Linked DNA regions of Homo sapiens: region 2 is linked to region 1. Evidence: fine-mapped expression QTL. Tissue or cell type: cerebellum. Region 1 holds a variant in brackets; the other region holds the start of a gene. All regions are shown on one strand. Distances are from middle to middle.

The links. PIP is the estimated chance that this variant, and not a neighbour inherited with it, causes the effect.
Region 2: WDR55 starts here. The variant in region 1 is fine-mapped to the expression of WDR55 in cerebellum (GTEx, PIP above 0.99).

What each region holds. Positions count from the first base shown.
Region 1 is chr5:141,251,893-141,260,076 of GRCh38, forward strand. It overlaps the pseudogene LOC100419552. Among named protein-coding and RNA genes, the nearest start is that of PCDHB15, 11 kb to the left of the region's middle. The variant C/T (reference allele first, on the strand shown) is at 4,863.
Region 2 is chr5:140,661,727-140,669,910 of GRCh38, forward strand. It overlaps WDR55 (WD repeat domain 55), which reads left to right and starts at 3,178. Exons shown (of 7, transcript NM_017706.5): 1 at 3,178-3,377; 2 at 6,508-6,608; 3 at 6,689-6,776; 4 at 6,886-7,065; 5 at 7,165-7,264; 6 at 7,353-7,522; 7 at 7,607-8,184. The coding sequence starts at 3,187. The coding sequence ends at 7,928. It overlaps IK (IK cytokine), which reads left to right. Exons shown (of 20, transcript NM_006083.4): 18 at 173-281; 19 at 453-487; 20 at 576-754. The coding sequence ends at 603. It overlaps LOC124901088 (a long non-coding RNA gene), which reads right to left and starts at 3,711. Exons shown (of 2, transcript XR_007058968.1): 1 at 3,639-3,711; 2 at 685-3,431. RefSeq lists enhancers at 2,589-3,255, 2,673-2,832, 3,183-3,312.

The DNA.
Region 1 (8,184 bases):
CTTCCTTGCTTTTATTTTCTTCCTAAATGGCAATTGGAATACATAGGTAGTTGTGGTCATATGACAGCATTCACAAGGTGGGAGCTACCTTATTCCAACAATTGGAAAGTGGAGAAGAATTTTAATTTCTTCCACAAATGAATTTAAATGGGAGCAACAGTTTTCTGAGAAACCCATTAGCTATATTTTTGGTATAATAAAAATAAGCTGCAGTGTCTCTTCACTATCCTCCAAACCACTACTTAAAAGAGCAACATGGAACTTCTATTTCTAGTTTGATTACTGTAAACATGGAAATTATGTATAATTTTAGACAATTTAGTTAATATGACTATTTAAATGTATATAAAATTATCCCTTTTGGCTGATGGCTGAATTTTTAGAAAAGATTTCCTTAAAAGTTGAAAGCTTGGTGGTACTAGCAGAGGTCTCTCTGGATATTTTGAAGTCGTAATGGAGTGTTATGAGTTATCTTTGGGATAATCCCCTAAGGGTTTTATAATCTTAGATAAACACTGTGATGATGTATTTTCTTCACAAAAGAACAAAGGAAACATAAACATAATGAATATTTTTTGTTAATCCAATGCCTATTCCTGTAAAAATGGATTCCTTTCCTGTAAAATCGATAGAATATAGGCTCTAATATAGCAAGCTCATTTCATACGTATTTCCAATCTATTAAGGGAGAGGCTTGTGTCTTTTTTCCCAAGCAAAGCCAAATAGCATTCAATGAGAGTTCACTTTGGTGATGTTTAATGAAAATCTAACTCAGATAGAGGCCTCACTGGAATACTCCATGAACAGAAATGTAATCTGGGCAAAACCCTGCAGGCTTTATCCTGGGAAATGTAATAAAAAAAAATCAGAATATTGTCTCTATTGCTGAATCAGTAGCCTGGAAGTCACTGCAGAAGTTTTACCTGTGGGAGGCTATGGGAACCCTCTTGTGTCATGTGCTCTCAAATGTGAATGAGCGGGCCAAGAACTAAGAATATTCAAAAGATTTTAAATGTCCAAATAGGCAGTTCTGGAAATACCTCAACATTGTTTGGATATTACATTTGACATGAAATAAAAAGGCATATGAAATACTTTGACCAAATTCTGTTCCAAGTTCTCTTTCTGACCAGAAATTTTCATCTGATCATTGTTAAAAGTCTGATCCATGCCAGGGAAGTCAGGCATTCCACATTTTCCAGATCCAAAGAATGGAGGTTAAAGATATTCCTGAGCATGCTCCTTGAAGGAATCTTGTGTCACTCAACTAGCCTGTCCCTACATGTTACTCCTCAAATTGTCACTACTGCCATCAACATTCAGAATCATGTTTGAAAAGTGTATGCTCTTCTACATATCTCTTATATTCTGCATTGAAAATGACTTTTAGAAATTCATAATTCATAGTAACAGAAAATGTACTAACCAGGAAGATCTTTTGCCAAATTAATACTTCTGTTAGTCTAAATTCTTTTAGTATTAATCAACAGAAACCCAATTCAAATTAGCTCTCAAGATAAAATACAGAATTTATTGAGAAGATATTAGGGTATATAAAGTAATTTAGGATATGTTTGGAAATAAAACTGATTGAAAGGTAGGGCCATAACAATTAGAAACAAGGACTTGACCATTTTTTCTATCCTGCTGGTTTCATTCCCTTTTACTGCAGACCAGCTTCCTTTACATGGAGAAAAATGCGCTTATATTTCAAGAGCCTAAAAGTTATTTTATAACTATTATAAGTTGACTCATGCCTTTTCTGGTACCAAGTTTGGAAATACTGGTGGGCTGATATCAATTCCAAACTAGGGCTAGGAAGCAGGAGATTTGTGTTTTTTGGTTTAATAATATGACTGCTCCCATTTGTTTTACAAGAGTCCAATGGGGTGGAGATATATGCACTCCCTGGAAAAGGGGAGGCAAACACATATCTGCATGTGTCAGTATTCACCAACACCAATGATTAGAAATTAAGGGAATCACAGTGAACATTTTCTTCATAATTCTTGTATTTTATGTGTCTGCAAATATTAAAGAAATTTTACTTCACAATCAGGGCAACAGATAGATGGCAGCTCAATTACTTTGAACATCCAGGCATTTGTCTGTGGAATGGTCATAGGTGACAATGGCAACTCAACATTGATGCTGAATTTCAGTATACTGCTCAGCTCACTAAAGAAAACTGATGCCCAGTAGGAAGGGCAAAGTAGACTATCTGGAGTGGTGGCAATTGAGGGTGGTTCCTCTTAAAATGGGAATTAAAATCAGTGAGGCCTGTGACATCTATTTCTTCATCAAAATTTTCTGCAGAACATTCATTTTAGCTAGCACAGTAGCTATTAGCATCTTTTTAAGTGGATTTTTTCTTACACACCTAGATGCCCCCTTAATGATATGTCAAAGGAAGAGATGTAATAGCAAAATGACTTAAATACATGAATTTGTTCTTGACCTTTCTATGTTTCTGACTGCAGTAATCATTATCTAACTGACTGGGGCTTTTGATAACTGCATTACTTCTGGTTATCAGCATAGTCATAAAAAAATTAAAAATTCTCGTGAATTCTAGGACTTTCAGAAGTTGGCACCATATTTACAGCCCCCATTATGAATATTAATGGCTGGAGAACAGCAAATGCCATTTCCTCTAGGTTATTACCATTAGTACCCAATCATTAGTAGTCCCTGTCACTTGTGGCAATGATGGTCATTTTCAAGATAATATTAAGTTGTATACCAAATGAGAGAAGAAAGCTCATTACTACTACTTTTAGATTTGGTCTTTCTCTTACCTTTTCCAAAAAACATATTTGATTAATTCCTGACAAACTTCTTACATATAGAAATGCATGTTTTGAAACAGGCCCAGAGATCCGAATGTGTACTACTTCCTTTGTATCTTAATTTACAAATGTTTTATGGGTAAAGTCTAGAATTTAAAGGCATCTCTAAAGGATTAATAATTTTGTCTTTCTTAGACTGATCTGGAATACCTTGAGAAGAGCATTACTTCCATTTATCAGCATAGTCACCAAAAAGTCGAGAAAAATCTATCATGATACATAAATGATGATGCCTCAAACAATTTTAGAAATCTATAGCTACAAATACACAAAACCCCATAGTGGTTTGTGTATTTGTGTGTGTGCATTTGTGCCTGTATATGTGTGTGTCTCTGGTGGGTGGCTTTAGTAGACAGTGGCAATAAAATGCAGAGATAAATACCAGAATAACATTGCTTTTCCAAAACTTTTCCACATTAAGATTTTTTCTTTAATCTATGAATGTATTTAATAAAGTTGGTGTTAGCAATGTATTGTAGAAGAGTTTATATTTTCAAATGAAAGGAAGTTATTTCTTGCAAATGGAACAATCCCAACATTATTGAATTTAGAATTTTCGTGACCTTTTTGGCCTTGAAGGAGTAGCCTAGGAGAAGGAGCTGTGAAGTAGACATGGTAAATTTTCCCCCAGTGAGATCAGGAAACAATAAAGTTGACAATAGGATCTGACAGGATGAGGGTGAGGTCAGTGTGGCAAATGTGTGCAAGGGCAGGGTGGTTCCTGTCCTCACTTAAAATTTCATATTTTGTTTCTCATGGGTGTTTACATTAAATTTTAATTTTTACAATATTGTAACAAATAGTATTTATCTCCAAGTTTTGGGATAATGACTTAAAATTTGCATCTGAGTTACTTGCTTTGCCCTTGTCCCAGTTGTTCGTTGTTTCCAACTTGCAAGTTCAAATGTTACTATGGTAACAGTGATGGCTACAATTGGAATTCAAGCAAAGAAATCTGAAGCAAGTCCTATTCCAAATATGGAGTGGCAGGGGCAATGATGGAAGAATCCAAAGACATCCAAGCAGATCTCATGAGCTGGAGTCATGCAGAGTGGGAATGGAACAGCACCTGTGTGATCATGATTGTCTAGGAAAATTGTTTGTAAGTTTTTCTTCCAGGTGACATGCAGCCAAGTCAGTGTGCTAATTTTGTTGAGAATTTGTGCATCTATATTCATGAGAGATGTTGATCTACAATTTTTTTTCTTGTAATACCCTTGTCAGGATTTAGTTTCAGGGTTCTCCTGGTCTCATCAAATGACTTGCCAATTGTTTCCTCCACTTCTTCTTTTATGAAAGAGTTTATGTAAGATAGTTATTATTTCTACTTTATGTATTTGATAGAATTTACTGCAGAACCCAACCATGAATGACATTTTCTTTGTGGGAAGATTTTGAATTGCACACTCAATTTCTTAAATAAATATGCTGCAATTCTAATTTTCTGTTTCCTCTTCTGTCGGCAGCTGGCAGCTTGTGTTTTTTAAGCAAATTTGTCTATTTTATCAAAGATGTTGAAGTTATTTTCATGAAGCTATTGATACTATTTCTTTCTCATCTTTCAATATATTTAGAATCTGCAGTGAGGCCCTCCCCCTTTCACTATGGATATTGGTAATTTATGTTTTCCCTCTTTTTGTCTTTATTGGTATTTCTGTCAATGTACCAATTTTGTTAATTTTGAAAAACAAGACAATCATTGGTTTCACTACTTTTCCTATTACTTTCTGTTTTCTTCCTTTTCTCAGAGAAAAAAAGGCTGGAGTGCAGTGATGCGATATAGCTCACTGTGACATCAAACTGCTAGCCTCAAGAGACCCTCCTAAGGCTAGGCATGGTGGCTCACACCTGTAATCCTAGCACTTTGGGAGGCCCAGGCAGATGGATTACCTGAGGTCAGGAGTTTGAGACCAGCCTGGCAAACATGGTGAAACTCCATCTCTACAAAAATTAGCCAGGCATGGTGGCGGGCACCTGTAATCCCAGCTACTAGGGAGGCTGAGGCAGGAGAAT[C/T]GCTTGAACCCCGGGGGTCAGAGGTTGCAGTAAGCCAAGATCGCGCCACTTCACTCCAGCCTGTGCGAAACAGCAAAATTCCATCACTCACACACACACACACACAAAAGAGAGAAAGAGAGATCCTCCTGCCTCAACCTCGTGAACAGCTAGGACTACAGGTGCATGCCATCAAATCCAGCTAATTATTTTTATTTTTATTTTTGTAGAGACAGTGCCTCACTATGTTGCCTAAGTTGGCCTCAAACTTCTGAGCTTAAGCAATCCTCCCACCTCAACCTTCAAAAATGCTGGGATTACACGTGTGAGCTACCTTTTCTAGACTCCTTTTTGTTTCCTATTTTATTGATTTCTGCTATTCTGTTTTTATTTCTTTTATTCTATGTATTTTGAGTTTAGTTTTCTCTTTTTCTAGCTTCTCTGAAAGCTCAGATCATTGATTCTAAGCCTTTCTTTTCTAACACACTTGAAAATATATAAAAATATGAAGTTATAAATTTCTTCCTGTATATTACTTAAGTTGCATTTCATGAACTTGACTAGTTTGTGTTTTTATTGCCATTCAGTTTGTACTATTCTTCTTTGATCCATTGCTTGACTATAATCGTGTTGCTTAATTTCCAACTATCCAAAGGTAACATTTTTGATTTCCAAAATAATTATTTTTTGGTCTTGGAGCATACTCTGTAAAATTTCAACCCTTTGAGATTTATGAAGTCATTAAAAATTATTCAGCATGTAAGTTACCATGGTGAGTTCCCCATGTGTACTTGAAAGAAATGTGTAACCTACAGTTGTTGGTTGAGTATTCTGTAAATATCAATTAAATCAAGTCACTTGATAATGTTTTTAGATCTTCTTTATTCTTAACATTGTTTCTACATGTTCTGCCAGTTATTAGGAGAAGAGTGTTAAATTCTTCACCTGTGATTGTGAGTTTTTATTTTTTAATTATACTTTAAGTTATAGGGTACATGTGCACAACATGCAAGTTTGTTACATAGGTATACATGTGCCATGTTGGTTTGCTACACCCATTAGCTCGTCATTTACATTAGATATTTCTCCCAATGCCCACCCTGCCCCCCACCCCATGACAGGCCCCTGTGTGTGATGTTCCCCACCCTGTGTCCAAGTGTTCTCATTGTTCAATTCCCACCTATGAGTGACAATATGCGGTGTTTGGTTTTCTGTCCTGGTGATAGTTTGCTCAGATTGATGGTTTCCAGCTGCATCCATGTCCCTGCAAAGGACATGAACTCATCCTTTTTTATGGCTGCATAGTCTTCCATGGGGTATATGTGCCACATTTTCTTAATCCAGTCTATCACTGATGGACATTTGGGTTGGTTCCAAGTTTTTGCTATTGTAAATAGTGCTGCAATAAACATACATGTGTCTTTATAGTAGCATGATTTATAATCCTTTGGGTATATGCCCAGTAATGGGATCGCTGGGTCAAATGGTATTTCTAGTTCTAGATCCTTGAGGAGTAGCCACACTGTCTTCCACAATGGTTGAACTAGTTTATACTCCCACTAACAGTGTAAAAGTGTTCCTTTTTCTCCACATCCTCTCCAGCATGTTTGTTGTGAATTTTTTATTTATTTTCAGTTCTATCATTTGTTAATCTCATGTACTTTAAAGCTCTGTTATTACATGCACAATGGATAGCTGCTTGATGAACTGACGCTCATTATTATAAAATGTCTCATTTAGTCTCTAGTTACTCTGTCTGATATTAATATAGTCAGTCTACATGTCTTATGCTTAAGGTTTGCATGATATATTTTTTCATTCTTTACTTTCAACCTGTATTTATATTTAAAAAGCATCTTTTTAAAACAACATAGCATTAAATCTTGCATTTTATCCAGTGTTAATATGTTTGCTTTTTAATTGGAGAGTTTATTCCATTTATATGTAATGTAATTATTTATAACATGATTGTCTCTATTGCAATTTTATTCATACCCTCCATTTTCATTCCTATGTTCCCCATTTTCTGTTTTCCTTTGAAATCCTTTGTTCCTCATTTTCTGTTTTCTTTTGACTTGATTAAATATTTTTCATATTCCATTTTATATCCTTATTTGAATTTTTAGCTACAACAGTTTCAGGAGTATTTCTTCTAAGGATGACAATATACTGCCTTTTCTTATCATGGTCTACCTTCAATTAGTATTATACTACTTAAGTTACAATATAAAAAACCTCCAATTATGCAATCCTCATTCTTTTGCCATGACATAGATGGATCAGCACAAGACACAGGACATATATTTGAGAATTCATATGGTGGAAAACCTCTATGAATATAATCAAATTTGAAAATCTCTCAAAAAGATCTTGATGTCTACTCTGTAGAAAATACTCCAAATTGGATACAAATATAATGAGAGTAATAAACATGAAAAGATCTCAGCCAGATTTCAAATCTAAATGTGCACTAGAGAACTCATGCTGCAGGGAAATTATGTGAATTCAGTGAATGCAAGAAAGTCTTCACTGATCTTTCACTTGTTAAAAACACACATGGCATCACACACTGAACACATACCCTATCAAAGTAAGGAATAGAGGGAATCCTTTATGTGTTCCTTGTATTTTAGGAATCATGAAAAATTTCACACTGGAGAAGAATTCTATGAATAGACATGTAAGCAAGCCTTTGTTCATTCTTCATTTATTGATGTACATGTAAGAACTCACAGTGGGCTGGGCACGGTGGCTCATGCCTGTAATTCCAGCACTTTGGGAGGCCAAGGCGGGTAGATCACCTGAGGTTAGGAGTTCAAGACCAGCCTTACCAATATGGTGAAACCCCATCTCTACTAAAAATACAAAAATTAGCCAGGTGTGGTGACGTGCACCTGTAATCCCAGCTACTCAGGAGGCTGAGACAGGAGAATTGCTTGAACCCAGGAGGTAGAGGTTGTAGTGAGCCAGGATCATGCCACTGCACTCCAGCCTGGGTGACAGAGCGAGACTCCGTCTCACAAAAAAAAAAAAAAAAAAAAATGAACTCACAGTAGACAGTGGAGATAAGCCTTATGAGTATAAGAAATGTGAAAAAGCTTTCAATTTTCTTTAATCTTTTAGAAAACATGTGAAAACTCTCACTGAAGAGAAATCTTATTAACATAAAAATGTAGAAAAACCTTGAGTTGCCCCTAATCCTTTAGGGCATATGTGATAACTCATATTGTAATTTACCCTATGGATATAAAAGAATGTGAGATAGGCTTGATTTCTTCCAGATCTCTTGCTGTACATGTAAGAACTAACGTTGGAGAGAGGATTTATCAATATAGAGAATGAA
Region 2 (8,184 bases), 590 kb before region 1:
TGGGCAGGGTGTGAGGAGGGGTGTGGGGATTTGGTGGAATAGTGCATATAAGGTTAGAGGGTGTGGTCTGGCTGAGATGTTCCCCACTAAGTTCTTTGCCCACAGGACTCTGGGAAAACCTCGCCACTGCTATGCAATCTCTGATGCATTCTTTCCCAACTGCTTTTTTCAGGGCTGCATTCCAGTATGGTATCAAAATGTCTGAAGGGCGGAAAACCAGGCGCTTCAAGGAAACCAATGACAAAGCAGAGCTTGATCGCCAGTGGAAGAAGATTAGTGCAGTAAGTAGGATGGCCCCTTGGGTGGGAGGGTTTCAGCTGGGAGAAGACATTAGCCTGCAGATTCAGGAACAGGCAAGGGGCTGGAGAGCCATGGAAATGAGAGGTCAGCCTTGGGCCTCAGGTGAGCTTAGATGGGCAGCTTGGTGATAGACTATCCTGTTGTTTTTGCAGATCATTGAGAAGAGGAAGAAGATGGAAGCTGATGGGTGAGCGGCATTATTCTTCCTCTGTGGGACTGGTGGGAATTGCTTAGTGTATTGATCTTATACTGACCCATTTCTCCTTCCATTGCAGGGTTGAAGTCAAAAGACCAAAATACTAATCACTAGTTACAACCAGAGATGCTCCACAAGGATATGCTCCCCACTGTTTTCTTTCTACAATTTCCAAAGGTTGCAAGATGTTTTTTTGTGGATGAATATAAAATTTTATTGTGTAATTACTTGGTTCCATTAAAATTGGTTAACTTGCTATTTTCTTTGTTGAGCATGTCCCCTCCAGTGCCCTTGAAGCACCAAGAACACTAATTCCACTGGTTGTGTAAAATCACATGCAGAAAGTCATCAGTCCTTTCCTGAGCTGTGGTTCTAGATTCCTAGACAGTAAGGATGCTCTCTAGCCAGTGTGCCCAGTAGAGAAGAGAATAATGATCCTCACTGATGGGCAAGAGGTGGATAGAGGAATGTAAGTATGATTGGTCTCAAATGTCAGACTCATTCCGGCCCATCTTCAGGCCTAGTCCCTGGGGAAAGATTTCCTGGGGATTGCTGTCAGCCTGATGGGCTGCTAATCTGATCTCCAGGCTATGAAGGACTGGGCTCTGGATGAAGGCATCTAATGAAAATCACTTATGGGTGGGAACCAAAACCTTTTATGAGTTTATGTACTATGAGCTTTATTAATGTTGAGTACAAATCACTGTCTCCTTGGCTAAAGGTGTAACCTTAGGGAAGTGCTTTGGGTTTAGAGCTGATATAGTGTGGCCCTGCAGGTACAGGAATTCCTATCCTAGACCAGAAGGGTTTGGTGCCCTTCATCACCCTGAAACATTTGCCAAGGCCCAGAATAGGTCTGTTGACCTTTGAATCACACCATTCCCTTCCCTTTTCTTCCCTTCTGCTCATTACCAGCACTTTGGCCTGGTGCTCATCATTAGGTGTCACTACTGCTTCCTGGCTGGATGCCACGCTGCCACTGTCTACCCTGAGCCCAAGATTTGTGGCCTCACCAGATCCAAGAAAGCTAGAAAGTCACCTTAGCCATTACCTTGTCTTTGATTATATTCACCTTGGTAGGACAGGTTTTTGTGAGGAAGCCAGTATTGTGCATGGCATGTAAGAGGCTGAAATTGGGCCTTGCTGCAATAGCACCTAGAATGGCTAATTTCAGACAAATGACACCATGGTTCTATGGATGTAGGTAGGCAGTCCCAATTATTAAAAATGGTCACAGAGACATGGCACAGGTGAAGACATCTGGAGAGTCACTAAAAGCAAGACCTGGAGATTGTGGGTTTGAAATTCAGTTTCTGAGGCCAGGCTCGATGGCTCATGCCCACAGTCTCAGTGCTTTGGGAGGCCAAAGCAGGAGAGTCTCTTGAGGCCAGGAGTTCATGAGTCTATAGCTATGCAGGAGGATCGAACCGAAGAGTTCAAGGCTGTAGTGAGCTATGATCACACCACTGCATTCTGAGCCTGGGTGACAGAGCAAGACCTTGATTTAAAAAAAGAAATTCAGGGGCTGGGCGCCGTGGCTCACGCCTATAATCCTAGCACTTTGGGAGGCTGAGGTGGGAAGACACGTCAAGAGTTCAAGGCCAGCCTGGGCAACATACTGAGTCCTCGTTTCTACAAAATATACAAAAATTGGCCAGGTGCGGTGGCTCACGCCTGTAGTCCCAGCACTTTGGGAGGCCAAGGCGGGCGGATCACGAGGTCAGGAGTTTGAGACCAGCCTGGCCAACATGGTGAAACCCTGTTTCTACTAAAGATACAAAAAATTAGCTGGGCGTGGTGGCATGCGCCTCTAGTCCCATCTACTCGGTAGGCTGAGGCAGGAAAATCTCTTGAACCCGGGAGACGGAGGTTGCAGTGAGCCGAGATCGCACCATTGCACTCCAGCCAGGGCGAGACTCCGTCTCAATAAATAAATAAAAATTAGCCAGGCGTGGTGCCGCGTGCCTGTAGTTCCAGCTACTCGGAGGATCGCTTGAGCCGAGCGGTGATCGTGCCACTGCACTCCAGCCTGCGCGACAGCGCAAGACCCTGTCTCAAAACAAAGCAAAACAAAAAAGAAAAAAAAATTCTTGGTAACTGAGCACTGCTTGTCCAGCCCATTGAGTTTCTGTAGACAAATTGTAGGAACTGGCACAGCAAACTGGCCACAAAGACGTTAGGGGCGTGGACACCAGCTGCTTGAGCTGCCTGCTGTCCCAGACTCCCGTATGTCATCGCGCAGCGTGGGATTTTGCGGCTTCCTGACAGCCCAGGCTGTCGCTTGACTTGATCTTGGGTTTCACCAAGCCACGAAGGACTAGCGTCCCTCTCTCCTATCCCAAGGGCATTAAGCCTGTCTGGATGAAGTAGGAGAGGAAAGATTTACACGCAGTTCTCAACTTTACGTGACGTGACTAGGGAGGGAATTGACGGTCGCACCGTCTACCTAGCCCAAACGGGGTCACAGCAGGACAAGGAAGTAGCCGATCTCCCAGATGCGGTCTCTTCGCTCCGCTCCACCCGCACCAGCAGCGGCCCACCCACCTCTCCTGTAAGAGGAAGAACGTCCCGGAGACACTTCCGGCCCCGCCCCCCGAGGCGGAAGCGGAGTGCCAGGCTACTCCTCCCGCAGTGTGGGTGGTTCCGAGGCTGACTACCCTGCGGCGGCGCGGCTCGCAGTCCTTCTCAGCATGGACCGCACTTGTGAGGAGAGGCCCGCTGAGGATGGGAGCGACGAGGAGGACCCAGACTCCATGGAAGCCCCAACCCGGATCCGGGACACTCCGGAAGACATCGTGCTGGAAGCTCCGGCTAGTGGGCTGGCGTTCCATCCGGCCCGTGACCTACTGGCTGCAGGGGACGTGGACGGGGACGTGTTCGTGTGAGAGCGGGGCAGGGCCGGGGCGCCGGGTCTGGAAGCTTCCCGGGGGTGGACCTGGGAACAGGAGAGATGAGAGAAAGTTGCAGGGAGACAAATTTTGCAAGATTCTTTGGGTCCAATTTATTCAGTAACATTCGGCTCTTCTATCACACCAATCTGTTGAAAGAACTGGAATGTCGTGACAGAGCCCAGATACCGTAGTAGGCCAAAAAGCCCTTTAAGGCCTTGTTATTTCCCACCGATTATTATTTATTTACTTACCTATTTATTTTTGAGACGGAGTCTCGCTCTGTCGCCGAGGCTGGAGTGCAGTGGCGCGATCTGGGCTCACTGCAACCTCCCCCTTCCGGGTTCAAGCAGTTCTCTTCCTCAGCCTCCCGAGTAGCTGGGATTATAAGCGCCCGCCACCACGCCCGGCTAATTTTTTTTGTATTTGTAGTAGAGACGGGGTTTCACCATCTTGGCCAGGCTGGTCTTGAACTCCTGACCTCGTGATCCACCTGCCTTCCTCCCAGAGTGCTGGGATTACAGGCGTAAACCACCGTGCCCGGACTCCTACCGGATTATTATATTGTGCCCGAGACAGGCTCAGCAGGCCCCTTTAAGTGATTTTTCAAACCACAAATCTTGGCTCACGCCTGTAATACCCGCACTTTGGGAGGCCGAGGTGGGCGGGTCACCTGAGGTTGGAGCTCGAGACCAGCCTGTTCAACATGGTGAAACCCCGTCTCTACTAAAAATACAAAAATTAGCCCGGTGTGGTGGCGCGGGCCTGTAATCCCAGCTACACGGGAGGCTGAGGCAGAAGAATCACTTGGATTCGGGCGGTGGAGGTTGCAGTGAGCCAAGATCGTGCCACTGCACTCCAGCTTGGACAATAGAGTGAGACACTCCCTTGATTAAAACCCTTCAATGGTCTGCTTTTAGGATTTAGTACAAATTTCTCAATCCTGCCTTCAACGCCCTGACCATCTGTGCTCATTCATCCATACCTTTTAAAAATACGTCTTGGGCCGGGCGTGGTGGCTCATGCCTGTAATCCCAGCACTTTGGGAGACCAAGGTGGGGTATCACCTGAGGTCAGGAGTTGGAGACCAGCCTGGCCAACATGGTGAAATCCTGTCTCTACTAAAAATAGAAAAATTAGCTGGGTGTGGTGGCGGGCACCTGTAATCCCAGCTTCTCGGGAGGCTGAGGCAGGAGAATCGCTTGAACCTGGGAGGTGGAGGTGGCAGTGAGCCGAGATCGTGCCATTGCACTCCAGCCTGGGCAACAAGAGCAAAACTCCATCTCAAAAAAAAATCTCGAAACCTCAGCCCATTTGCATGTGCTATTCTGTCCGGAAAACTCCTTTCCCCTCACTTTTACCTACTATCTCTGAGTTTCCAGGATCTCTTCCCTCTTCCTCTCTCCCCAGACTAAAATTGGTTACCTGTTAGATGCTGCCATGGCACCAGGTGCCATGGTACCTTTCCCTTAATAATGAATGGTTGGTAACCATATGTCCATTTGTGTAATTATTTGAATGCTGTCTCCTTCACTAATGTTTTTCAAACGTCTTTGACCTTGCCTCACAGAGAAATACCTTTTACATTATATATGATGCTCTGTGATACAATTGCTGATTTTATTCTATTATTGTGTACATGTACACAAAATGCTGATCGTAGCTTACTAGTCCGTTATATGACTAGAATGTGAAAAAACACTGTTCTGGAGTGTAATCTGTCATCGGTTTTGTTCTCTATTTTATCTCCAACCTCTAGTCTAGGGTAGATGCTCAACACATGTTTGATTTTGAACAAAAGATACAGGTTAGAGGCAGTGGAAAAGTTGAAGATGTTATGCTTATCAGATTTACTTAATGAATTTAAACCTCAACCCCTCATTAGCTGTAATGGCCTTGAGCGTGTTAACTTCTGTATTTTCATCTTTGAAAGGGGGAATTATACCTACCCTTGCAGAGGGGACAAGTTTGCAGTACAGCACCTAAGCAGCTCTTCAACAAATGTAGGTTCCCTTCTACTACTATCCATATTTATGGTGCCAGGCACTTGGGAGTTGCCCTAGACATCCACCTTTCTTCACATTCCACACAACTTTGTTGCTTCCCTTGTCTTAAAAAAGGTTCTGGAGGAAAATTCTTGGTTCTCCCCTTCCCCACCCTCAGCCATGACTATTGTGAAAAGGTTCCTTTTCCGAGGATTAAATTCAAACTTCTGCTTGGCTCATGTGGTCTCATGCCCACCCCAGCCCATCTTTCTAGATTCAGTCATGCTACTCTCCTGCTACAAGGAACCCTCCTCATTCCTTATCTCTGCTGCCTCCAGTATCTGGCCCTTGCTCTCTGCCAGGCAAATTCTACTCTTGTATGATCCAACCCACATGTCACCACCTTAGCTTTCCAGGGCTCTCTTCTCCCTTCCCAAGTATTCATTCAATTTGTGAATGTTTATTAAGCTACTTTTTCACGTTCAGCACTGGGATAGAGAAAATGAGCAGGCTCAGTTCTGCCTACCTGGAACTCACTGGCAATTAAGCATGTATTCATTCTGCCCTTTTTGAGGATCTGCTCTGAGGCAGGCACTTGGGGGTATTCCATAAACAGTACTCACCTCAAAGTTGTTTACAGGCTGGTGCCTCTCCCCCACCTCCATTTTGATCTTGCCTCTTTTTCAGCACGTACTCTCAATGTACTGTAATTAATTGTGGCTTTCTCTAGCTCCTGCAGACCTGAAGTGCAAGAGCCTGCTCTACCTTACTGATTTTTAGATTTCTAACTTCTGGGGCTGGTCTTTTGTCATTGATGTAACAAATATCTCCTCCACAGTGGTCCAGACCCAATCTTTGTCCAGGCTGGGGCTTTCAAAGATGATAAAGAGGGGTTGGGTGGGATCACAAAGAAATCTTGCGCAAATATACCTTGAACTAACATATATTGAAAAAAGCAGGACCTAACATTTCAAACTCACTGAAAATGGAGAAATGAGATGGTAAACTTTTTGGGCTTAGAGGTGTAGAAGCAGGAACTCTTAGGTAGGTGGGAAGGCTGCTCTGTCTAGTTGGTCTCTGCACTCAATGCAACCCAGGCTGGGTCTGGAGTCATTTACCCTCCTTGCCCTCTCCCCAGCTTTTCCTACTCTTGCCAAGAGGGAGAAACCAAGGAGCTCTGGTCATCAGGTCACCATCTCAAGGCCTGCCGAGCTGTGGCCTTCTCTGAAGATGGGCAGAGTGAGTACTGGGGAAGACAACCAGCAATGTGGTGGAAGGGAGCAGTGAGCAGCACCATGACCTGGGCACCTTTTCCCCAGAGCTCATTACTGTCTCCAAGGACAAAGCCATCCATGTTCTAGATGTGGAGCAGGGCCAACTGGAAAGACGTGTTTCCAAGGCTCATGGGTAAGGAGAGCAGCCAATTCTGTGTATGTGCATGGAGGTGAAGGGTAAGGACCAGGAGGTCCCCACTGGGACAGAGATGCTCCAAGAAGTTCTACATCTGTGTCTCTAGTGCCCCCATCAATAGTCTTCTGCTGGTGGATGAGAATGTTCTGGCCACTGGGGATGACACAGGTGGTATCTGTCTCTGGGACCAGCGGAAGGAGGGCCCCTTAATGGATATGAGGCAACATGAAGAGTACATCGCAGACATGGCTCTGGATCCAGCCAAAAAGCTGCTGCTGACAGCCAGGTACAACTTCAAAGCTGCCTTGCCTCCCCTCCCCTCCCTGTGTGAAATGTCTTCCTCAAATAGACCTTGCGTCTAAGCCTACTGCTCTACTCTCTACAGCGGGGATGGCTGCCTTGGCATCTTCAACATTAAGAGGCGTCGGTTTGAGCTGCTCTCAGAACCTCAGTCTGGGGACCTGACCTCTGTCACTCTCATGAAAGTACAGCTGGTTATGGTGGGATGGAGGGGTGTGTGCTGGGGGCTTAGTCTGAGGCAGCTTCCACATTGTTTTCTCTATTTCCCTGCAGTGGGGGAAGAAGGTAGCCTGTGGCTCCAGTGAAGGTACCATCTACCTCTTCAATTGGAATGGCTTTGGGGCCACAAGTGACCGCTTTGCCCTGAGAGCTGAATCTATCGACTGCATGGTTCCAGTCACCGAGAGTCTGCTGTGTACTGGCTCCACTGATGGAGTCATCAGGTGAGGGAAGCCTGGACAGCCCTTAGGTCACAGGAAGGGCAGACCCAGCTAGCCAGTACTCAACACTGTTCTTTCCCTGCCCAGGGCTGTGAACATCCTACCGAACCGAGTGGTGGGCAGTGTGGGCCAGCACACTGGGGAGCCTGTGGAGGAGCTGGCCCTCTCCCACTGTGGCCGCTTCCTGGCCAGTAGTGGCCATGACCAGCGCCTCAAGTTTTGGGACATGGCCCAGCTGCGAGCTGTGGTGGTGGATGACTACCGTCGGCGCAAAAAAAAGGGAGGACCACTGCGGGCTCTGAGCAGCAAGACTTGGAGCACCGATGACTTCTTCGCAGGACTGAGGGAAGAGGGAGAAGACTCCATGGCTCAGGAAGAAAAGGAGGAGACTGGGGATGACAGTGACTGAAGGAATGAATTGAATCTTGAGACGGGTCCTCACCAGGCAAGAGTCTTGCTTATTGGGCTGCATCCCCAGAGAGGATATGAATTATTTTTTGAAAAGACAGGGTTTTGCCATCGTCCAGGCTGGAGTGCGCTGGCTTGATCTTGGCTCACTGCAGCCTCAATGTCCCCAGGCTCAGATTGTCCTTCCACCTTAGCCTCTGGAGCAGCTGGGACTACAGGTGTGCACTACCACACCAGGCCAATTTTTGTTTTTTTTT